Regions from separate parts of the Homo sapiens genome. Here regions 1, 2, 3, 4 and 5 are each reported to be linked to region 6. The links are microRNA targets in miRTarBase. Many come from high-throughput screens and were not tested one by one. Region 6 holds a microRNA gene; each other region holds the end of a gene's coding sequence.
Evidence for each region. The annotated mature microRNA hsa-miR-4430 reads AGGCUGGAGUGAGCGGAG and lies in region 6 at 1,860-1,877, shown strand. An mRNA with a match to its seed (bases 2 to 7 or 8) in the 3' UTR can be bound and repressed. Matches are read on the target gene's strand: a 7mer-m8 pairs with bases 2 to 8, a 7mer-A1 pairs with bases 2 to 7 and ends in A, and an 8mer does both.

Region 1: the mRNA of TSHZ2 is a reported target of hsa-miR-4430. The part of its 3' UTR that is shown has no 7-base or 8-base seed match.
Region 2: miRTarBase lists UBN2 as a target of hsa-miR-4430. The part of its 3' UTR that is shown has no 7-base or 8-base seed match.
Region 3: miRTarBase lists FAM9B as a target of hsa-miR-4430. Seed matches in the 3' UTR shown: 7mer-m8 at 1,210-1,216.
Region 4: the mRNA of FANCC is a reported target of hsa-miR-4430. Seed matches in the 3' UTR shown: 7mer-m8 at 2,850-2,856.
Region 5: the mRNA of ANKRD9 is a reported target of hsa-miR-4430. Seed matches in the 3' UTR shown: 7mer-m8 at 1,000-1,006.

Annotation. Positions count from the first base shown.
Region 1 is chr20:53,256,044-53,260,134 of GRCh38, forward strand. TSHZ2 (teashirt zinc finger homeobox 2) reads left to right here. Exons shown (of 3, transcript NM_173485.6): 2 at 1-528. The coding sequence ends at 520. Among named protein-coding and RNA genes, the nearest start is that of TSHZ2-AS1, 250 kb to the right of the region's middle.
Region 2 is chr7:139,296,963-139,301,053 of GRCh38, forward strand. It overlaps UBN2 (ubinuclein 2), which reads left to right. Exons shown (of 18, transcript NM_173569.4): 18 at 825-4,091. The coding sequence ends at 874. Among named protein-coding and RNA genes, the nearest start is that of TRR-CCT4-1, 42 kb to the right of the region's middle.
Region 3 is chrX:9,021,851-9,025,941 of GRCh38, reverse strand. It overlaps FAM9B (family with sequence similarity 9 member B), which reads left to right. Exons shown (of 9, transcript NM_205849.3): 8 at 359-458; 9 at 565-1,710. The coding sequence ends at 427. Among named protein-coding and RNA genes, the nearest start is that of FAM9B, 10 kb to the left of the region's middle.
Region 4 is chr9:95,097,826-95,101,914 of GRCh38, forward strand. FANCC (FA complementation group C) reads right to left here. Exons shown (of 15, transcript NM_000136.3): 15 at 1,229-4,025. The coding sequence ends at 3,882. It also overlaps a transcript of AOPEP not described here. Among named protein-coding and RNA genes, the nearest start is that of MIR3074, 14 kb to the left of the region's middle. RefSeq lists an enhancer at 3,834-4,089.
Region 5 is chr14:102,503,643-102,507,733 of GRCh38, reverse strand. It overlaps ANKRD9 (ankyrin repeat domain 9), which reads left to right. Exons shown (of 4, transcript NM_152326.4): 4 at 1-4,091. The coding sequence ends at 798. Among named protein-coding and RNA genes, the nearest start is that of ANKRD9, 4.1 kb to the left of the region's middle.
Region 6 is chr2:33,416,660-33,420,750 of GRCh38, forward strand. It overlaps MIR4430 (microRNA 4430), which reads left to right and starts at 1,857; the gene lies at 1,857-1,905.

The sequences.
Region 1 (4,091 bases), not on the chromosome of region 6:
GAGCCTCTTCCAGACATCAGAGGGCAAATACCTGCTGTCTGATCTGGGCCCACAAGAGCGTATGCAAATCTCTAAGTTTACGGGACTCTCAATGACCACTATCAGTCACTGGCTGGCCAACGTCAAGTACCAGCTTAGGAAAACGGGCGGGACAAAATTTCTGAAAAACATGGACAAAGGCCACCCCATCTTTTATTGCAGTGACTGTGCCTCCCAGTTCAGAACCCCTTCTACCTACATCAGTCACTTAGAATCTCACCTGGGTTTCCAAATGAAGGACATGACCCGCTTGTCAGTGGACCAGCAAAGCAAGGTGGAGCAAGAGATCTCCCGGGTATCGTCGGCTCAGAGGTCTCCAGAAACAATAGCTGCCGAAGAGGACACAGACTCTAAATTCAAGTGTAAGTTGTGCTGTCGGACATTTGTGAGCAAACATGCGGTAAAACTCCACCTAAGCAAAACGCACAGCAAGTCACCCGAACACCATTCACAGTTTGTAACAGACGTGGATGAAGAATAGCTCTGCAGGTATGGGTTTGCTCTGAGGCATTGCGATTAGCCTGGTGAGGAGCTTTCTTACAGGGAGATGGGTCTGCTTAGAGGCAGCTAGCATCTCCCAATGCCAAGCAGGATAGTAGCTTGCTGGAGTAGGATTTATTTTAATGAAAGACCAGAACATGAAAACTAAGTCCTAATCATTCTCTTAAGTCCTCTAGTTTAGAGCTGGGAACTAGAATAAAACGGGTTTAGAGAGATAAAGTTCACAGATTACTACTGCTTTTTTTAGGCCTTCATCATCCATAATCCTGAATTACCCAAGGCAAGCTCCAGTGTCCAGCCAAGGCTATCTTTCATTTTAATTATTAGATACTAACTTCTGTCACCATTCCATTTCACCACCCCACCTTTCCATAGCAATGCCAATGACTTATAAAGTGACAAAAAGTTGAGCAATGGAAGAAAGATTGGAGAGTGCTAGAAGTAGTTACTATATAGAGATTCCTTAATCAGCTCATGAATAGCTTAAAGTTGTCTTTATGATTGTTACTTGTAATGAATGCTTTTTTGCAGCTTACTTTTAGTAATTGCCACCTTCCACCTCTTCCCTTTGGTTATTTTCTACATTAAGTGTCCTATGAATGAGCATGTGCCCTTAACAGGTTGGTAGAAAAATATTCTTCTTTGCAGAACATTGAGATGAAAAGAAGCTTATTTTCTTCTTTCATCTTTTGGTTTTCTTGTGGATAGACCAGTATTAGAGCCCACCTTTAACAAAGATAGAGGCAATGTGTGCCCTTGAGGTTTCATTTCACATAAAGAAACAAATGGCTTTCTGTACACTTATGTTAATGTGCATGGAGTCCCATAGCTTGAAGATAATGTGCATCATGTGTCATAGAAGTTCCATGCCTTATATAGTCAACCATGCCCAGACCATTTGTGTCATTTTTAGGAAACAGGGCAGAGACCAAGGTCAAATGCTTTGGCAGATTAGTTTCACCAGCCATTTTCAAATGTTGAGGATAAGCAAGGCTGGGTCTTAACCAATCTCTTTCATTTGCCCATTTGTGTTTTCTCTACTTCTTTTTCTCTCCCTTCCAGCATGATGCCCGCATACACTAAGGGCCCTCCTATGTGTTCAGGTGGTCCTCCACCTTCGGCCATTCCCCAAGATGGGAACCCAACCTGAACTAAACCTTCTGTGCTGACCAATCCAGTTGACGTCATGTTAAGTTACGGATTTGCTCCTAGTTAATTAGCTCTTAATTCACGATCGAATATGAAAAACTAATAACATATAATCGCTCACCACACCCTATTGTCAGAGCATTGGTTTACAAATAGAAGACTTTCAGAACAAGCTAGAAAGGTAGGACACTAGGAGAGTTCCAGGTAGAGAGCGGTATTTACATGGCATGGCTTTGGGCTTGCCTCACATCAGACAGAGGGGTTTACTGGGTGTGAAGATGGCCAAGATGAAATAAAAAGTTAAAATATCTGACCTGGGACTTTCCCCTGAGTGAGGCGATCTACGCTTCTGATGGAGAGGAGTCCTCCTATAACTCTAATTGCTATCTAGACCCAAATGAAGACTATCTTTTTGGTTTGCATGTTTTTATCATGATGATTGAATGTGTTATTGGCAGATTCTTCTCATTCTTTCCAAGCATGATTTGTTCAGCTCACGGAATTGAAAGAAAAGCCAAAATGCATCCATTGAATTCACACCTGAGCTTGGGGTTCAACAGCGTCCTATTTATTTGCTGCATAACATTTTAAATCTTAAATAACTTGCCATTATGTTTTCCTGGTTCTTAAAAAAAAAGAGGGGGGGCATACAGAGAATACTTAGAGAGAAGAAAGATATTTCAAATCCAATAGTGGTGGGTTGAAACCATGGTGAAGAGGACAAATAGGTAATATTTATTTGTACTATAACAAAGACCACTTTTCCACCTGTTAGGTTTGTAATCTTTTTTAGAAAATTAATATAATTGCCAAAACACTCTGATATGTAGATAGGGAGAGGTAAGGAAAAGAAAGCTTGATCCATCGTCAGTCAGAATCTGGAGTGTATGATACCTGTTCTAGGGATTCAAAGGTGAACCAATAATTTGGAAAAACATATACAAAAGGTACTTCCAAATCCATTAAATACATAGATAAGATAGCCATTTTGGCACTTCTCTGCATTTGTACAGGATGAGTATATCTAATTTGGACCTCGAAAGCACCGTATTGGTGTTTTCATTATACAAAACCAAAGCTCCATCCTTACAAGCACCATTAGGCTGTGGTTCTGAGAGGATTGCAGAAAAACAGGTTTGAGTGTTTGGGACTCACTCAAAGCCATGGGCGTGTATGTATGTTTTGTAAACAGAAAAGATGGTGCAGGTACTGGCTGTGTTTGTGTTCATCGTAAAAATACTCCTATCTGCCTGAATGTTTCCCCCATCTGTACAAAGGTCGATTCTTGGTGCTTTGGTCACCTTAGAAAAAAATGCCTCCACCCCCGGGGTCCTCTTTTAGAACAATATTTATGCAATACCTTGCCCATTGCTTAGAATGATGCATGTAAGGTTTCTAAATGGTCATGAAATGACATCACTGTTGTCTGGAACTCTAATCTTAGTTGTAATGCATAGTAGCACAAATTGTGCAAAGTGACATGATATTTTAGAAAGTATGATCAAGATTTCTTGGAAACTATGAGAGCTTTAACCTATCAATGTTTTTTGAAAGACACAACTTTTGATCTGAATTTTCTTTCCTTTACCAGATATATCTTAAATCCTGCAAAATGCTCTGCCAAATATTAAATGCAACTTTTCGTTAAAAATTTCATTAGAAAATATTAAGTGTGCATCTCTATTTTAGGTCATAAGTAATCTAAAACAATTTCAATATGTATTTGTATATAGCTTTAAAAGCCACATGCTCTTGACTAATAGAAATTAAACAGAGAGCAAATCAATGAGTCTGAAATGCATAAAGGCTTGAAATTATAGTCATCACTGTGTAATATAGTGTACAAGCTTAACAGCACACCTAGCCTTGAAATTGTTGGCAGGAAAGTATTCTAGTCCAATGAGCTGCCACTTCTGTTGTGGGCGGCTTGATAAAAACACATATTCAGGGTGAAAAGCGCGTAAGGTTGCCAGACAAAATACAGAACGGATGTCCAGTTAAATGTGTATTTCAGATAAATGACAAATAGGTTTTGAGTATAAGCCTGGCCCAAATATTGCATGGGCCATACTTATATTTTTAAAATATTCATTGTTTATCAGAATTCAAATTTAACTGGGCATCCTGTATTTTTATTAGCTAAATCTGGCAACCCTAACAGCATAGATTATATGGCAGTTGGGAAGAACAAAATAGCCTGGACAAATTAATATCTATTAATGGCATCAACCATTCCTTCCTCCATTAAATAAATATTCCTTCCTTTCATCCTCTTTTCCCTCCTTTGTTCCTTCATTCCTTCCTCTTTCCCTTCTTTCCTTCCTTCCTTTTTTCTTCTTTCCTTCCTTCTTTTCTTCCCTCCCTGCATTCCTTTCATCCTTCAACAAATACTGGTTGTGCTT
Region 2 (4,091 bases), not on the chromosome of region 6:
GGCAGGGTGGATCATGAGGTCAGGAGTTTGAGACCACCCTGACCAACATGGTGAAACCCTGTCTCTACTAAAAATACAAAAATTAGCCGGGCATGGTGGTGTGCGCCTGTAATCCCAGCTACTCGGGAGGCTGAGACAGGAGAATTGCTTGAACCTGGGAGGCAGAGGTTGCAGTGAGCTGAGATCGCGCCATTGCACTCCAGCCTGGGCGACAGAGCGAGACTCCGTCTCAAAAAAAAAAAAAAAAAAGGAAAGAGCCTTGTCCCAGTAGCAGACTTTCCTGTCACTTAAAGCTAGGTTAGAATGAGCACACACTCAGCTGGATGTTTTTCACTACAGATGAAAAGTTTGCTACGTTTGTTTACACAAATAATCAGGAATTATGAAATGCTGTGTCCTGGCAAGAAATTTTATTTCACTTACAAAAAAAAAAAAATGAAATTGACCTGTCTTCCAAAGGAGTTGAAAGATGTAGTGGGTCCCTCGGAGGTAGGAATTGTGTCTTCTGGTTCCTTTATAACCCTCTCACAGCATTTGACACAATTGGCTGGGACGTAAATGATAAATACTTGTTGAAATCATATTTAAAAAACACTGAAAACCACAGTCATTTGAGAGAAGAGGATCATTGTTGTTGAGTTTTTATCTCCATGATGTTTTATCAACCTCTATAATGCTATATGGCATGCAAGATATTAAAAGTGATATCTTTTCAGAGATGTCATCCACAAAAGATAAAAGTTAATTGTTGTTTTTGCTTTGTTTTTGTTAGCTGGTTTTTGTAACATATGGACCCATACCAATTTAACGTCTCTTTTTCTCAGATGGAGGCCAAAGTAAAGGGGACACTAAATTACCACGGAAATCTCAGTGACTGCCCAGCAAGCAAAGGAGACGAAATGTTTAGTTGACTGATGGAATCTACCTGATGGGAAAGTACTTATGTGGTCATAGGGCTGCTGTTTCTGTCGATGTTTACATTCTCTCGTCCCAAGCACTGTGGTGAGGAGGAAAAAGAAAAGAAAACATTACTTGAGCAAAGCCAGGTGCAGGAGGAAGAAATGCTTTTGTGCAAAGTTAGTGACCTTTGGTCTCTTCTAAAGAATGACAGAGTTACCGTATTAACAGACTTGAAAGAGACTCAGTTGTCAAACCCACAGAAATACAAATTTGATTTTTCCCGGGGGAGGAAGAAGGAAGTGAAGAGAATTTGGGTAAACTCCATCCATCCTGGGGGTTGGATCTGAACACTTACAGACATAATTGGTAATAAAAGGCATTAAAAACTGGAATTAGGCCAGTTTGTCAGGAATAATGATCATGTCTATTTGAATGGACTGTGTAGCAGATTTGCCACAAAAAGAAATAATAATGATTCTATCTCCGATAGACAGTAGCTGCATAGCACACCCTCGAAAATCCTGAACAAACTTGAATCTCCTCCAGTGTGTAGCAACTTCCCTCAATCAGTGGACTAAAGATCCTTCAGGAAAGTTATTTTAGCACAGTGATATATATTATTAAATCATCTAGATTTTTAAAAATCAGGAAGTTGAGCCTGTTGCTCTTAAGAGATGAAACCTAGATGTCCCCTTTTTGTAAAAGGGTCAATTTCATCTTCCGTTCAGAAGCAGGTACTTAACTCTTTTCTTCAGGTGATTTGTGCATCTAGTATTGACTGGTTAATTCTTATTTCCATTCTTGATGTTAAAATGTGACTGTGTTCACATTTTTCTCCTGAGAAATGGGGATCTTTACAGGGTTATTGCTTTGCTGCTTTTAGCCCTTGCAGCAACATAAACTCTAAGTTTCCCCAGTTCATCTAACTTCACAACTTCTCCTTCTGTTCTTTTAGCTAGTGGTCCTTCAGGTGATTATTAGCTATTGGTATAAACAGGTAGAAGTGTACACTATGTTTCTTCATTGGTCATTCAAATGGCATGAATATAGTTTTTGAATTTTTAAGATGGTATTTTAAAGGGAGGAATCACATTAGGATCACAATCACGACATATTTTTACTCCCTGTATCCAGTGTAGTGAAATTGTTTGGAGCATTTGAGATCCTAAAGCTTCACTATTTACTCAGTGTATTGGTATGTGAGTAAATCTGCAGAAAATAAGACTCCTTAGTTATTATAGCTTCCTTATGCAAATAGCATATTCAACAAAGGATGTTAAGGGAAAAATTTATGGTTCTCCTTGGATACATTTGATTTGATGGGTTTTTTTGCCGCATTATTCTAGTTTTTTAAGCTTCTGAATATTTTCATACTATATCAGAGAATGGTGTAAACTCTAAATGGTATAAGCTTCATCCATTTATAATGACACTAACCTAAAAAAAATAGACTGGTAGTGACAAGATTTATTGCATATGTGTTTATTATACATTACCCTATACCATTAGATTTACTCAATTAAGAGTATTAACCAGGCCCTTTTTTCTTTTATACACAAAAGTCCCAGATACCCTACAGGACTGTGAATAAATAACCACAGATCGGTTCAGATCTGTATGCCTATATTTTGACTTCAAAGTCACATTGGCTTGCTTCATAGCGAAAAAGTTAATAAATAACTGAAAACTTTAGTTCCAAGAACTTGTTACAGTAAAGGGAAAGGATTATTTCAAAGGAATCACTGATATAATTTCTTGACTCTAAGAATTTAGTTTATCAATAAAACAAATATGGATGTAGTATGAACCCCAGTAGATATTTTGGAAGGATACTGGGAGGATGTTGCAGAGAGGTTTGACTTGAATTCAGTATGTTTGATGAAGATTTGCTTGGTTTCAATTAAGGAAGCTTGCCCAATTTTTTTAATTTTTTCAAATGTAGTGGACCTCTTGCTTTTACGAAATATGAATAAAAAGGTCTTTGCTTCATACTAGGGGAAGTGATGGGATTTTCCTTTGGGAAGGTAGCCTTTGTTTTACTTCTCATACCACAAGAGAAGTCGAAGTGCGTATTAATTTCTCTTCCTGAATACTTGTATATATGTTTGTCTGTATGTATATATACATACACACATACATTCATATAAATGACTAGTTTGAGTCAAAAAATCATTTGAATTTCTTAAAACCATCAATTCTGAATCATGCCATATGAAGATCCCTGGTGACTGTCATCATTAGAAAAGAACAAGATAATCAGTTCTTTTCCCTGTAACATTTTATACTAACCAGTAAAAATATCTGAAGGCCCTTGGCTCCAAGAATACAATGTGGAGATTCTTCTGTGTTCTCTTTAGTCTTGATTCCTTGAGGACTACTGTCAGATCCCTACCTTAAACCCCCACCTGCACTGACGACTTACATTCATTTCAGTCAGGACCCCCCTTTTATGTTGTATGAATCAGTCAAACATCGTTGTATTTCTGTATAGATAAAGTATGATCAGAGAGTTTCTACATGTAAATAGTAATCTATTTCTTTCCTAGATCATAACATTGAAAAAGGTGCCCATACTTTATGGTCACCTGTCTTTACCGTTTTTATTACTAAAAACAAACATATAAATTGGTTATTTTTTAGCACAGAGACTTGTGACTCATACTGTATTTTTGCACTTAAAAATCAAATTATGTTATTTTTTAAAATGGTGAGTCATTGGAAAGGATATCTATAGAGCAACGTGTATTTCTGAAGAGCATTAGCAACATCCAAATGCAAAAATAATCAGCACACATGATTATATCCCACTCCTTGGGATTCTTGATTCAGGAAGATTAAGCTGTTTGTTTTCAACTGTTTTATATTTTAAATTGCCTTCACTGATATATAAGCTGTTACTGTACATACAAGTTAATCCTCAGTATTCACAAGCAATAACAGTCAGCAGGGTTGTCCTCGGAGATAGCTGTGCTGAGCCTCAGTTGGAGACTGGGAGCAAAGTGTCAAGCTCATTCAGAGCATCCAGAATAAATGCAAGCAATAATTTCCATTATAATTCAATTATAATTCTTGTATGCTTTTGAGGTCAGAGGGTAAATGAAATCGTGATTTTAAAACAGCCTGAAGAAAAAGGTTTTGGGAAAGGAAATGAGGCTAATCTGTAGTCATAAAATTCTGATACTTTGCGGAAA
Region 3 (4,091 bases), not on the chromosome of region 6:
CTGATAATACATGGGTCGCTACCTGCTGAAAAAAAATATAATATTTCATGATATAAGCCTGCCCGTCTTTTTCTGTCTTCGCTCCATCTTGACCTTAAGATGTTCTTCAACCCATTTTATTTAAGCAAAGTACATGACTGTTAGACCTGCTAAAATAATATGTCACTGAAATCTGGCATTAAAAAATTTAATTGGGTATTTGGAGCTCCATGTATTGATTATAGTTTTTTCTATTTGAAATGAATAACTGGCATCCTTTGAATATTAAAAGCTGTTTCCTTTTGACATTTAATTAACCCTGTTTAAAATGCGAGATATAAAGTGGTGGTTTGTCAGTGAACTAGACTTTTTCTTTTAGGCTCTTGAGGACTTTGAAGACCTTTGTGACAGAGTTTTTTCCGATGAAGACAGTGAACTTGATAACTAGACATGTTTTTAAATAAAATCATGTCAGAACTGTAAGTAGTGCATATTTAATATTAAAAACTCAGGATTGATGTAGCACTGGAATATTTTATTTGCAGAAATGTGTATTACAGTTACTTAAATTTTTTTTTGAAACAGCTTTTGGAAAAGTTGGCACTTACCCAGTTGTCTCTTCAACCTCTGTTATTCTGATGACTGAAGAAAGAACTTGAACCTATGTTATATGATACAAGCACAACTTGAGCTACAGTAAACTACATGACAGTGTTTTGATAATTGTTGTATAAATCGGTATAGCTCCTCTGTCACTCGTCTGTTAAATGCCAGACCTCGTTTCTATGATCTGTTGAATGAATCCTAGACACTTCTGTGAGAAAGCAGGGATTGCATAGTTATGTACACGGTCAATTAAATTTTAACATTAAAGATAATTTAGATTTCGATTTGGCCTCTGTGGATTTGTATCAGTTCCAAAAATGTAGAAAGCACAGGCATAGAAAAGTACATTTTTCTCTAATAAAAGAAGACAATATCTGCTGGGTGTGGTGGCTCACGCCTGTAATCCCAGCACTTTGGGAGGCCGAGGGGAGTGGATCACTTGAGGTCAGGAGTTTGAGACCAGCCTGGCCAACATGGTGAAACCCCATCTCTGCTAAAAATACCAAAATTACCCGGGCGTGGTGGCACGCACGTGTAGTTCCAGCTACTCAGGAAGCTGAGGCAGGAGGATCTCTTGAACCCGGGAGTTGGAGGTTGCAGTAAGCCAAGATTGTGCCACTGCACTCCAGCCTGGGCGACAGAGCAAGACTCTTTCTCAGAAAACAAGAAGAAGAAGACAAAAGCTATCTTATCTGTGCGTTCTTTTGTATTTACTCATTAGGATAAAGAGGCAATTCCAATGAAAGTAGGACTTCAAAAAATAGATATACTCTATGGCCATATCAAAATTATTAAAAGCACCTTACTGTCTGTGTTCTTAAAAAAAATTATACTGCTGTAAATGATTAAGGCAACTGAGCAAGATATATTAATATCAGTGCTGAGCCACTGGTTTGTGGGTATGTCATTTCCACAGACATCAAAATGCTATTTAGTTTGTTTTGGTCCATCATTCAATGATACCTCCCCTTAGAATTGAATGAAAGCATTTTGTTAACATTTATGTATGCTTACAATTATTTCACATCTGTGGCAAGGTAAATTTTGTAGAGTGCTTTGTTTATCCAGTTTAATATTCGTGGATTATGTGGAAGTTTATATGGACATCTAAAAACTTGAATGATGAATTCGCCTGCCTTTCCTTTTTTTAATGTGCAGTTTTCACATGTAACAACATATAACAAACATGTAAAAAGATTTTTTGCATGTAACATGTTAAAAAGATGTACATGTTTTTACATGTAAAACAATTTTACATGTAACATGTAAAAAAAGAAATGTTCATTTGGAAACACTTTATTTAGTAAATATGAAATTCAGAATATATATGGAGTAAGTGAAGTAAATGTATTCTTTTGCCAAGTTTCTGAAATTCCATTCATGAATCCTTCAAAACACAGTACTCCCATTGGGAGGAGAGGAGTGACTTCCTCTCATTTTTCCTCGTGCTATTTATGTTAATTGGCCCCTGTATACCACTCACCTTTTCTGGGTTTTCCAAGTTTAAGAAAAAAAACAAGTTCATTCAGATTGTGTTTTTCTGCCTGCAGTCACGTATACAGCAATAAGTGAGTCCCTATGGGGAGCATTTAATTCCTAAAGTTTGCATTTTCATAAAGGATTTTCCTTTTACCCAAAGCGTGTGTTGGTACTACTAAGTACTATGAAGTACTACTTTAAGTTTCTAAAAAGATCCTTATTTGAGATCTCTTTCAGTAGTTACAGAGCCAAAATAAGCACTGCAGAGGTCCATGTCTGAGTTCTGTTGTACATCCTGGGTTATCTGACTACTATTTACTCTATAGTGGAAGGACAAGAAAGAGGCCACAGTGTACTTAATGATGGAACAGTTGATGTTTATGCCACCCCTTACTACCTCAAATGAGTAACTGTGTACTTGAAGTCATATTATTTTTAGAGACCAGGTGTCGCTCTGGCCCAGCCAGAATGCAGTGGTACGATCATAGCTCATTGCAACCTTGACCTCCTGGGCTCAAGCAATCCTCTCACCTGAGCCTTCAGAGTGGCTGGTACCACAGGTGTGTGCACCACATCCAACTTATTTATAATATATTATATATTATATATTATACATAATATATTATATATTATATATTATACATAATATATTATATATTATATATTATACATAATATAATATATATTATATATTATACATAATATAATATATATTATATCTTATACATAATATAATATATATTATATATTATACATAATATAATATATATTATATCTTATACATAATATAATATATATTATATCTTATACATAATATAATATATATTATATCTTATACATAATATAATATATATTATATCTTATACATAATATAATATATATTATATCTTATACATAATATAATATATATTATATCTTATACATAATATAATATATATTATATCTTATACATAATATAATATATATTATATCTTATACATAATATAATATATATTATATCTTATACATAATATAATATATATTATATCTTATACATAATATAATATATATTATATCTTATACATAATATAATATATATTATATCTTATACATAATATAATATATATTATATCTTATACATAATATAATATATATTATATCTTATACATAATATATATTATATCTTATACATAATATATATTATATCTTATACATAATATAATATATATTATATCTTATACATAATATAATATATATTATATCTTATACATAATATAATATATATTATATCTTATACATAATATAATATATATTATATCTTATACATAATATAATATATATTATATCTTATACATAATATAATATATATTATATCTTATACATAATATAATATATATTATATCTTATACATAATATAATATATATCTTATACATAATATAATATATATCTTATACATAATATAATATATATTATATCTTATACATAATATAATATATATTATATCTTATACATAATATAATATATATTATATCTTATACATAATATATAATATATTATATCTTATACATAATATATAATATATTATATATTATACATAATATATAATATATTATATATTATACATAATATAATATATTATATATTATACATAATATAATATATATTATATATTATACATAATATAATATATATTATATATTATACATAATATATATTATATATTATATATTATACATAATATAATATATATTATATATTATACATAATGTAATATATATTATATATTATACATAATGTAATATATATTATATATTATACATAATGTAATATATATTATATATTATACATAATGTAATATATATTATATATTATACATAATGTAATATATATTATATATTATACATAATGTAATATATATTATATATTATACATAATGTAATATATATTATATATTATACATAATGTAATATATATTATATATTATACATAATGTAATATATATTATATATTATACATAATGTAATATATATTATATATTATACATAAT
Region 4 (4,089 bases), not on the chromosome of region 6:
AGGAGGAGGCTTGAAGACATGTTATGTACTTACTGTATCTTAATTTTTGTTCTTTGGTTGTAAAATGGCTTAGCGATGATTAATGACTTAGGATTTTTCGACAAAATCTACGGATTTCCCAACATTTGGCAGAGGGAAGAACTTTAGCACCCGAGCCCCCGGGCTGGGGGAGGTGGTCCTGGGCTGGAAACAGAGGAAGAAAAAGGCGAGGGGAGAAGCACGGGGAACTGTTTCTCTTCTTCCTTGGAAAGCAAAAAAATTTTGGATTCCTTGTTGAATAAGGAGAACATTCCTCACATTTGCTCCCACTGTGCAAATCCTCCAGTGCATCCGCCGTCCTCTGGGCAGCGTAAGGCCAGGCTCGGTTTTGACTTCCCAGCATTTTGGGTGGATTCACTCTGCCAGGCTCACCAAGGTCCCTTCTTCTCTGGCTTCCCTGTCAAGACCCCATTCGTAACTTCTCCACTTCAACAGAAAACTCGGCTTCCTCCCATCCCCTGGACTAGCTCCCATTTCTGTCCTAGCTCCCATTTCTGTCCTAGCACCTTGTCCCACCACTTAGACACCAGGCAGGACAGGGTGAAGAACAAACCACGAAACCCTGCCAACCATGGCTGCTCCAGTGAGAGGCTCCTCAGGAGTGTCTTAGCATTTCCTGTCTGCTCCCTCAGGCGCCCTCCTGACCCCGAGAGGGGCCCTAGTGTCCCATAGCCGGAAGCATGGGGAGTGCTGGAAACCCCACTGCAGTGGGGGTCCTGGGGGTGGCCACGGCGCTGCTCGCCTTGGCCGCATCACTCATGCCTCCCAGAGGGGCCTGTGGGGCTGGAGGAGGGGACAGCAGCCTGTGAAGCAACGGAGCGAGCAAGAGTGGGTGGGCTATGCTGGTGGGACGAGGCCTTCAGCTTCAGGGATCAGGGAAGAGACAGAACAATTCAAGTGAGGCTTATGGTCAAGCCTGGCTTAGAGAAAACACAGATATGAAACGCATGTAACCTGATCTTGGCAGGCCCTGCCAGATGCCTGCCCTTGTCCTCCTGCTTCCTCCTTGGTGACAGGACCCTTAGTTTTTAGGTATTTAGTAGCAAGGTTCCCAGGCCCAGAGGCTAAGCCATCCTCGGTCTCTTCCAGGGCACATCTAGGTTTCCTGAGGCCCGAAGCTTCCACTGTCTGGGGCCATCGGGGGAGCTTTTTCCTGAGAGAAGGATTGTAATATTTAATGGATACAACATTAGGTGCAAACTGAAGTTTTATTTAGAATGAAAAAATAGACAACAAATTACAGATTTTAAAGAGCTAAAAAATTCCACAGATGTCACGGAGTCCAGGGGAATAACAGCCTGGTTGGAGGGGCGCTCTCCGCCTCTTCTGTATTTTTGGCTCTCTCTGAGGGTAGTGGTTTTACCAGCATGCTTTATCAAAAACTAAACTATCAGGGAGAGTCTACAAAAACTCCTGCTAGAGTAAGGTCAGATTCCAGACCCTGTCGCACCTCTGAAGACCTTGGTCCAGTTCCTTCCAGGGTGGCTTCACGCCTTGCCATCCCTGCCTCCCTGCGGCTGCCCCTGTGCCCAGGCCCCGCCAACGCCGTCAAGGCCCCCTCGGCCACGCCGCGTCCCCGCCCAGCATCTCGGATGCCATTCCTTCCCGGTGGCACCTGCCCAGGCTTTGCCGAAATCGAAGGCAACAAGAGGGGGAGGTGGGCTTAAGAGTGCCTGCCCGGCCGCCACCTGTCTTGGAGGTGGAGGGAATGGCCGAGGGGTGGCTCCCCCAGCTCCCCACCTTTGAGCATCTCTCAGGCTGGGAAAGGGCAAAGGGCCACATGAAGCCAGCAGGCACTTCAGTGCCACGTCCCCAGAGGGACAGTCCTCCCACCCAGGAACCCCTGGCTGCCCAGAAAGCACCACCGGCAAGGCCGCCTCCACCGCACCCGTGAGAGGACTCGGCAGCTGTGAAGGAACTGGGAGATTCTGCAGATGGGCCGAGGTCAGGGCTTCCAGGCTAGGAAGAAGTCTTCCAGATGCCTAGCTTCACCAGTCCCAGGAGAAGGAAGGAAGGGGCATGGGCAGAGGCCTGGCAGGGGAGGAGGAAGAGGCCAACCCTGTACACAGGACCACAGGACAGGGTGGAGGACTGTCCCAGGAGTCCCTCCACAACAGGAGGCCTGGTCCCAGTGGCCCCTCTCTCTAGGGGTTCCCTGCTGCCACCATGTCCACAGAGGAGTCACAGCTTCCATGGCCCAGCCACAAGTTCTGGCTTAAAGTCAGAACAGGAGAGAGGCCCTCAACTCCAGTGAAGCATGCAGCTCCTTTTTCAACCCCAACACCTCTGACGAAGCATGTTTGTTATATGAAGGCAAGGATCATGATGGCACGAAGCATGTTATATGAAGGCAATGACCATGAGCACGAAGCATGTTATATGAAGGCAATGACCATGATGGCAGCTGCCACCAAAATACTTTACCAGCACACCCTTCTGACTGCAGCATTTCTCAGAAGAAAGGCTCAGGTGAAAAGTTCCTGGAATTTTCCAGATCTTCAGTGGATCTATTAGCATTGCCACATACCAAAATAAGGAATTTCCCTAAAGGTTAACTTCTAATCCAGCAAAACTTTGCTCATACCTCAAAACGGAGCCAAGACTCAGACTAATACACACAAATCAAAATGGACAAAAGCAAGTCTTGACTCACTTGACAAACAGAATAGACACAAAAGAATGTACAACCAATACAATTCCAGAATGTCCCTGAAAGGAAAAAGCACCCTGTACTGACATGAAATAAATGTTAACCTTGAGATTACACTAACAATGCCTTTTTTTAAGAGATGGTCTCGCTCTGTTGCCCAGGCTGGAGTGCAGTGTCATGATCTCGGCTCACTACAACTCCCACCTCCCGGGTTCAAGAGATCCTCATGCCTCAGCCTCTTGAATAGCTGGGATTACAGATGCATGCCATTGCACCCCGATAATTTTTGTATTTTTAGTAGAGATAGGGTATTGCCATGTTAGCCAGGCAGTCTGGAACTCCTGGGCTGAAGTAATCCCCCTGCCTTGGCCTCCCAAAGTGCTGGGATCACAGGTGTGAGCCACTGCACCCAGCCAGGCCAATTCTTTATCAGGAATTTCCAATTCCCATTTCCATTTAACAAGAGAACTAACTAACTGAATTAATCCTGCCTTCTAATGTTTCTGGAACACATCCTCTACCTTCGCCTGCCGGCTCCTCTGATGTCCCAAGGGCCTTTTGGTAGCAGTTAGCATCATTTAGCAAATACAGAGTGGAAAGAGTGTGCCGGAGGCCCGGGCTTGGGTGTGCTGTCTGCTCCTGTGGCCTGTCAGGCAGGTCCAGGGAGACACAAGGGAAGCCTGAGGGACCCTGACTCCCCTTGAAGAATTTCTCCATACAGCAAGACAGTGTGGCTTTATCCCAGATCCCTGACTCCTAAAAAGAGTCTAAAAAGAGCTAAGTTCTCTCTAAATTCTTTAATGGTTCATGACCAAATTCTTGGTTCTAAGACTTTGAATTTTTAAATAATAGATGTGCAGCTTGACTTGGGTAAAAACTAGAAACCTGTTCTCCCACCCAGGCCTTTGCTTTAGTAATTATCAAGCTGACGGTCTGGCCGGGCGGGCACCAGGAGTACCGAAGGCTCACTTGAGTCATTAGTGAACATGTCTGACTGAGTCTGGGCTGAGGGACCTGGCTCTGCATTTTGTAAAATAGATACTAGCAGATTGTCCCAAGATGTGTACAGCTCATTCTCACAGCCCAGCGAGGGCACTTACTCCACAAATGCGTGGCCACAGGTCATCACCTGTCCTGTGGCCCTGGCGAGCCTGATCCCTCACGCCGGGCACCCACACGGCCTGCGTGCCTTCTAGACTTGAGTTCGCAGCTCTTTAAGGAGCTCTCGGGCCAGTTTTTCTGATCTAGGGCTTTCAATGCCAAGACGATTCCATCTGTACAAGGTCTGGTCAAGAAAGCCAATGATCTCGTGAGTTATCTCAGCAGTGTGAGCCATCTGCAATCAGGACAGAAGAGAAGGCAAATTAAAACACTTTCCAGACAGATTTGTCCTTTGTCCA
Region 5 (4,091 bases), not on the chromosome of region 6:
ATGCGCGCCAGCGAGGCCTTCCACTGGGACGAGCGCGGGCGCGCCGCCGCCTACTCGCCCTCTGAGGCGCTGCTCTACGCGCTCGTGCACGACCACCAAGCGTACGCGCATTACCTGCTGGCCACGTTCCCGCGGCGCGCGCTCGCACCGCCCAGTGCCGGCTTCCGCTGCTGCGCGGCTCCCGGGCCGCACGTGGCGCTGGCAGTGCGCTACAACCGCGTGGGCATTCTGCGCCGCATCCTGCGCACCTTGCGCGACTTCCCGGCCGAGGAGCGGGCGCGCGTGCTGGACCGGCGTGGCTGCAGCCGCGTGGAGGGCGGTGGCACGTCGCTGCACGTGGCCTGTGAGCTGGCGCGCCCCGAGTGCCTCTTCCTGCTGCTGGGCCACGGCGCCTCGCCCGGTCTGCGGGACGGCGGCGGCCTCACGCCTCTCGAGCTGCTGCTGCGCCAGCTGGGCCGCGACGCCGGGGCCACTCCCTCCGCCGCCGGAGCCCCCGCCTCAGCTCCCGGGGAGCCGCGCCAGCGCCGCCTGCTGCTGCTGGACCTCCTGGCGCTGTACACCCCCGTGGGTGCCGCCGGCTCGGCCCGCCAGGAGCTGCTGGGCGACCGGCCGCGCTGGCAGCGGCTGCTGGGTGAGGACAAGTTCCAGTGGCTGGCGGGCCTGGCGCCGCCCTCGCTCTTCGCGCGCGCCATGCAGGTGCTGGTCACCGCCATCTCTCCAGGCCGCTTCCCCGAGGCCCTGGACGAGCTGCCGCTGCCCCCATTCCTGCAGCCGTTGGACCTCACTGGCAAAGGCTAGGCCCGGAGCACCCTAGGCGCTGGATTTTGGGACAAAACTATTTTTCAGAGCGTTGTACCGGCACTTTATATATATTGATCTCTGTACGGCACAATCTCTGCCTCATCTGTCGCATGCACTGGGGGCTGGGCTTGGATGGTCAGGTGAGTTCCAAGTGGCAGGTTTTCTGGGTGCAGCTGGGCTCGGGCCTTCAGCTCGCTGTCCAGCCCCTGAAGGGAGTGAGGACTAACCTCCCACCTTGATCTAGAGCCTCGGACAGGTGTGCGTCCCAGATGGGTGACAGCTGAGTGCCGCAGGAGCTCGGTAGGTGCAGGGGTGGGGACTGGCATGTCCAAGCAGCAGGACAGCGTATAAAAAGGCCTGGAAGCCAAGAGAACGAGCTCTGCAGCGTAGGGTTCTCACGGGAGGTCCTGTGCGGTCAGCCTTTTGCACCCTGTGGACTCCGGGCCAGGGAGGGCACACAGGGCTGGCAGGCCCGCGGTGGCTGGTGTTGAGGCATGAACAAATTGTACCGGGTATCCCCCACCCCACTCTGACCACCAGTTCCTCCTTGGATATCACTCCCCCTGACAGGCAGCCCACCCAGGCCTGGATTTGTCCCTGTCTCCCCCTTTTGCTTTTCCCCCATGACTAATGGGCACCAGGTCTTGCTGCTCCTGCTTCTCACCTCTGCAGTGGCAGCAGGCCCCTGGCCCCAGGTGCATGCCGGTCAGTGGGGTTGGATGTGCCTTCCTCCAGGCCTGCCCTCTGTCCAAGCCCGGAGTGGGCTTGGTGGGCTCCCTGGTGGCCCCCAGTGGGTGCCAGGTGGTGCCCGGGGTTATTGAGGGGTGGTTGTATCACTGTAGGGACAGGCTTCTTGCCCCAGCCTGGAGAGCTGTTTTCTTCAGGAAGGTTCTGGAGATGGAGACTTGTTTGCGAATTCACCACAACTCCAGGCTGGGAGGCTGGGTCTCCGCTCTCAGAGCCGAGACACCAGGGAGGATAGCCAGGCTGCCCTGCCTGGGAATTCTGCTGGGCCGTCAAATTCAACCCGCACCAACGTGGGCAGGAGGGCCACAGTGTCCTGCCAGGAGCAGAGGGCTGAAGGTCTGCAGGAGGAAGAACCACTATCCTGGTGGGGGGCACCTGCTGCCCACCCTGCCCCCAGCGTGCCTGGGGGGAGCACACCTGGGCATGGAGGAGTCCAGGGTGCTGGGCCACACAAGAGAGGTGGGGGAGAGGCCTGGACAGTAGGAAGATCTTGCCCAGGGTCCTGGATCCGCCACTCTGGGGGTGACCTTGGACAAACCTCTGCCTTGGCCCTCAGTCTCCCCATCAAGGTTTTTCCATTCAGGAGGTTTTGGGCCATCTTCAGCCACCCTACCAGCCCTGAAAAGGATGTGACTCCTGTTTCTGGGAAGTGTGTGGTGTGTTAGGTGGGCCTACAGCCCTGGTTGTGGGGAGGGAAGGATGGAGAGACAGCACAGTGACAGAGCCCAGACTGCAGGCTGGAGTGAGGGTTCCACTTCCCCGCTGCTGTGTGTCCTGGACCAGTGCCTCTGAACCTTGGCACTTGGGGCAGTGGATATTAACATCTTTCCAAGCCCAATTCTTGGGGCATCAGGGCCTCCGGTCCTCTGGGAGGTGGCAGGTCCTCAGATTGGAGATGCCATGGGGGGGGGAGGTGCCTCTCCTTTGGAGGGTATGGAAGTGGAGACAGGAGTGGCCTGGCGCAGCTGCCGTGGTTCTTAGGGGCTGGGCCCGGGGAGCCCATGGGGCTTGTGCCTAGAAAGCCTGGGCTCCTCACTGGGGTCTAGATGTGCAGACTTCATGTCTCCCCAGCTCCAGCTCTGTTCTCTATAGGTCAGCCTCCACAATGCCAGAGGCCCAGGGCTAGCCCCCTCCACGTCCCTCCTAGATCTACAGCTGCCCCTTTGATGACAGCGCCATTGAGTCCCCTGGGCTGGGGGGGTCATGCAGGGGTGAGGCAGCTGCCTGCCGCCGGTACTCATTGCCTGGCCAGGCAGGACACAGGCTGGCGGGCACTGAGAGTGGGCCCCACGAAATCCATTGTCAGGTTACCAGGATGAAGAACCCAGGCTGGTCGTGGAGTGCAGGGCGGGGCCTGCCGGAAGAATTATGGGCACTGCAGCAGGAGGGCAGCCTGGGCCATTAGCTCCTGATGTCATCGATTTGGGTGAGGGGACAGGGAAGTCAGAGGAAGCTGGCCAGTGGCTCTCACGAAGACTTACAGCAGCGGAGTGGTGCCTGATTCCTAGTACAGCTGCTCCCACTGAGTCTCCAGGGATCTGTGGTTCAGGACCCCCTGCAACCCCCTCCCAGACCCCTGTACTGGTGGGAGGAGAGGACCTAGAGGAAAGGTGCTGGGCAGATAAGCAGCCGAGGGAGGCCCTGGGTTTAGCTTATCAGTCTTCTGGGCCCTCCTGCCCCAGGAAGGGCAGCGAGGACCATGGTGTTGCCCCTGTCATCGTTATCGTCCTGGCCATGAGCTTGCAGGACTGGGAGGGCCGGAGTCAGCCAGGCAGACGGCAGCACAGCATTTGCCTGTTGGCAGGTGGCCTTGGTGGCTTCCCAAAGGCAATCGCTCCACGCAGAACAAAACTCACTTTTTTGGGGGGTGAAGCACCTTGGTTCATTTGTTTAGTTCGTTAATTCCAGCAGTCTGTTTCTAAGGGAAACATGGCTGCAGCCGGTCCTGCCCCTCCACCCACCCACCAGGTGCCCAGTGTTCCCAAGGGCCCCGAATCCCAACCTTATTCAGGCGTCAGCATCTCTGCACCCCAAATGCCTGTTAGGGAGGATAGTGAAGGCTGAGCCCTCCTGGGCTCATCAAAAGCCAGCAGTGAGAGAACACCCCCATCTCTCTGAGGTGACCTTGTAGGGCAGTCCGTGCTGTCTGGCTGGCCTGGGTGAGGTGGGCAGGGACCAAGGCCTGGCGCCTGGGCCTCGCTGGCCTTGCTCTGCGTGCTGACTTCATCCTGATAGTACCTTGATTTTCCTACTGTGACTTCCCCTTCTGTCGACTTCCTCACCAACTTTAAAATTCCGTATTGAGAGCAGTTTCCTAAGTTACCTCAAATCCTATTCAGAAGAAGGTTCTTCCTGGAAGTTGGGAGGGCGGAAAACAAGTTTAGTCACAGAAGACTACTCCATGTTTGAGCTTCTGTTTCAAGGGAAGTGAGTAACTGCCGGAGGAGCCCTGCCCCTCTGCAGTGTGTGGTGTTGCCCTGATACTTTTCAGATTGAGGTGTTACTTACATGTAATAAAATGCACAGACTTAAGTGTATACTTT
Region 6 (4,091 bases):
CACCATGACCGGCTGATTTATTTTTATTTTTATTTTTAGTACAGGCAAGTTCTCGCTATGTTCCCCAGGCTAGTCTTGAACTCCTGGGCTCAAGCGATCTGTCCATCTTGGCCTCCCAAAGTCCCGAGATTTCAGGAATAAGTCACTGTGCCTGGCCCCTTCCATACTTTTTTCTCCACAGGATATCTTGAAATCACTGGGACTTGGGCACTGTCATTATAGCAGTTAGCATACCCTGACTGAGAGAACATCAAGAACAAGCTTGAAAAGTTTGGGGTCCTGTTCAGCCACATCTCCCCATTCTGCACTTCTACAAGTGGCTTTTTGAACCTCAGTACAAAATTTTACCTTTGCTCCTATTAATTTCTCTTCTGTTGTTGGTCCCTTTCTTTAGCCTTATGTTAAGATGTTTTGAGATTCTGATTCTGACTTCCAGTATGGTTGCTGTCTCTTCCAAGTTGACATACACTCTCCATCTTTATTCAAGATATTAATGTAACTATTAAGAAGGATATCTCTTTAAGACAAAAAAAAAGTGCAATACAAAAAAACAACTTCCTTTTGCTGAGTTGCTGAGCCCCTTGTGAGGCTGACAATGGCAGGATGGTTTAGTCTGTCGTCTCCAGAGGGTTTCCTGCCAGGGGACTTCTGGATTTCAGGATCGGCCAACATGAGTCAAACAGCTCTTGGAGCTCTTTATTCTCAAACCTTCTCTGCAAATCAGAGCTGGAGATTTCAGGATTCCCTCCCCACATTCCTCATGACCAGTACCGCTCCCTATTTTCTCAATTTTTCATGAGTCCCTTCAAAGAGAAATAATTTAAATAAAAAGTCTTTCCCAGATTTACCTTTTGCTGATTTTCCATTTTTCCCAACTAGGCAACAAGACTTCATTTTGTTCACTGATGTGTCACACAGAGTATTTCAAATAGTTTGAAGCCAGAAGAAGCAAAAAGGGAAGATGCTAAGAGGTCACCAGGGCCGGGCGTGGTGGCTCATGCCTGTAATCCCAGCACTTTGGGAGGCCGAGGCGGGCGGATCACTTGAGGTCAGGAGTTCAAGACCAGCCTGGCCAACATGGTGAAACCCTGTCTCTACTAAAAATACAAAAATTAGCCGGGTGTGGTGGTGGGCGCCTGCAATCCCAGCTACTCAGGAGGCTGAGGCAGGAGAATCGCTTGAACCTAGGAGGCAGAGGTTGCAGTGAGCCGAGATCACACCACTGCACTCCAGCCTGAGCGACAGAGTGAGACTCCATCTCAAAAAAAAAGAAAAAAGAAAAGGCAACCAGGTTTCTGTTTTGGGGGGCTACATTGAAGAAATCCAGTGTTTCCTACCTGCTTTCCATGGTGGCGGCGGGGGGGAAATCTGAATGAAAAAAGAGATTAGATCCATCCTTGAGCATGGTGGGTTTGAGGTGCCTGGAAACATCTACACAGAGATGCTGAAAGTCCATGAAACTGACTAGTCTGAAGCTGAGAAGGCGGACTGGCTTAGTGCTCTGCAATGTGCAGATAGAATATCTATGGATACTGAGTCAGGGCTCTCACAGTGTTGGTCTCAAGGCAATCCTGGTCCTTAGAATAGACATGGAAAAAGGCACAAGGCAGAAAAGGCCCTCTTTCTTTCCATGTCTATCTCCCTCTATGATCATAGACAACATGCGTTAAAAATCATATTATAAGCTGCTCTTAGAACTTGATCGCTTCAGCTCACAAGTTCAAGGCAAGTCTCGGCAACATAGCAAGACCCCATCTGTACGAAACATTTTAAAAATTAGCCAAGCATGGTGGCATGTGACTGTCATCCCAGTTACCCGGGAGGCTGAGGTGGAAGGATCACCTAAGCCCAGGAGGGTGAGGCTGGAGTGAGCGGAGATCGTACCACTGCACTCCAACCTGGTGACAAAGGGAGACCTTGTCTCAAAAAAACAAAACGACTCCCACCTCCAATAAAAAACCCTCATCAACCCCAAATCTAGACAAGTAATGTCCACTTTTGCCTGAGATTTTTTTTTTTTTTTTTTTTTGAGGCAGAATCTCGCTTTGTCGCCCAGGCTTGAGTGCGGTGGCACGATCTCGGCTCACTGCAACCTCCACCTCCCAGGTTCAAGTGATTCTCCTGCCTCAGCCTCCCGAGTAGCTGGGACTACAGGCGCATGCCACCATGCCTGGCTAATTTTTTGTATTTTTAGTAGAGACAGAGTTTTACCATGTTAGCCAGGATGGTCTCAACCTCCTGACCTCACGATCTGCCCACCTTGGCCTCCCAAAGTGCTGGGATTACAGGCGTGAGCCACCGCGCCTGGCCTTGCCTGAGGTTTTTAAATCAGCTTTACCCATCCTACTGACTGGGGGAGGGTAGCGGGTAGGTGGATGGGTTGATAATTTCCACCTCCATAGCAATCACCCTAAGCCTTCTATCTTGTTCCAGTCCTACTCTTATTTTGCTTATGTCTCTGCCCACCTTCAACCTCCTAACTTTGTGGTCACTCTTTCAAATTCTGTCTGTGGTCTTTGCATTTGGTATTTGAACTTGATCTCCCTGCTATTTGAACCTTCAGTTACCCCCAACCTCAGTTACCATCATAGATTTTTCTTTGGAAGAAATACCTTTTATTAGTCAGGATCCATTCAGCAGACAGAAGCCACACCAGGTAAAGGAAAAGGAAAATTTTAATATGAAGAATTGCAACTAGGTAAAAAGCCATTAGCTAGGTAACTGAGAAGGGAAAAAAGATCTCTAAAGTATCACAGAGGTAAGTGGCAACTGCAGTCATCAGCTACCACCCTTTCAACTGAGGGAAAAGAGGGAAGAGATTGGAATTATTAAACTTGGAAACGTAGAGTAGGAGTCTTGGAGACTCAAATTTTCTGAGGAGTTGGTACTGGCTGGCTGGGGTTAATGTCTCTGAGTGGGTACAAAGGAGCGTGTTTTATAAATGGGACAAAATTGAAAAGCAGATTCAGCTGCTGCTGTGAGAAGGCCGTGCCTCTGCCCATTTGAAGAAGCTTTGCTCAGGTGACATCACAGGAATAAGAAGTAGACAGGAGGCAGCAAATTCTCTCTTCTTCCTCCAGCCTTGCAGGCTCCCTCTACCACCCCCTAAAGAGCCTGAAAGGTATCTGGCTGGAAAAATAGAAATGTCGTTTGCAGTTTCTGTCCCAGCAACCCAAAGCGAGGTATAGAAGTGTATTTGAATTTGAAAGATAATAATGCTGTAAGGTCACTGTTTCTGACCTTAGCCAGCTCCCACTCCTCCCCAGCTAATTACTTCCCACTCCTGCCTCCAGTAGAGAATGACATATTTACCATTCATTTCCCACTGTGTTCTCCAAGTCTCTGCCCTTGCCCTGGCAATTGTAAGCAAATTGTTACTATCACTTTCCTTTCCTGATTCCACATTACTGCATGAGTAAGTTACAGTGCTCTTCAAGCAGGAGTCCACCTTGCTCTTTCAGCATGGTGAAGACAGATGATCTGCCTTACAAGCAGCTGCAGATCTTTTCCTTACCTCGAATCCTTTCTTCAGAGAAATTTGGAGGTAATTCCGAGTTTCTCTTGGGCTCCCTTCAGCAGCTTCATTTACTCAGGCTGTGGTCTTGTTATTTAATGTTGCATAGCAAATCACCCTAAATTGTAAAGGCTTGAAACGAGAACAAGCAGTTGTTGTCTTTTATGGTTTCAAGGCATCGGAAATTAGGAAGCAGGTTGGCTGAGCTGGGTTGAGGTCTCTCATGAGGCTGTAGTCACGTGGTGGATGAGGCTGGGGTCATCTTGAAAGCTCTGGCACCTGGGCCGGGAAGACTCAAGAAGCTGGGGATAGGAACAACTGGGGCTCCTTAGGTATCTGTCTACTTATTTAGACTCTCCAAGTGGTCCTTTTCAGAGTATCTTGATTTGTACATGGAAGCCCATGCCCCACAGAGCAGTTCTCCCCAGAGAAGCCAGGAGAAGCTGTATGTCTAACTTCACTCAGAATTATCCTCACTTCTGCCACATTCTGTTCATCAAGGCGGTTACAAAAGCCCACCCAAGTTCAACAGGAGGGAACATAAACTCTACTATTTGATGGGAAGAGTGTCAAAGAA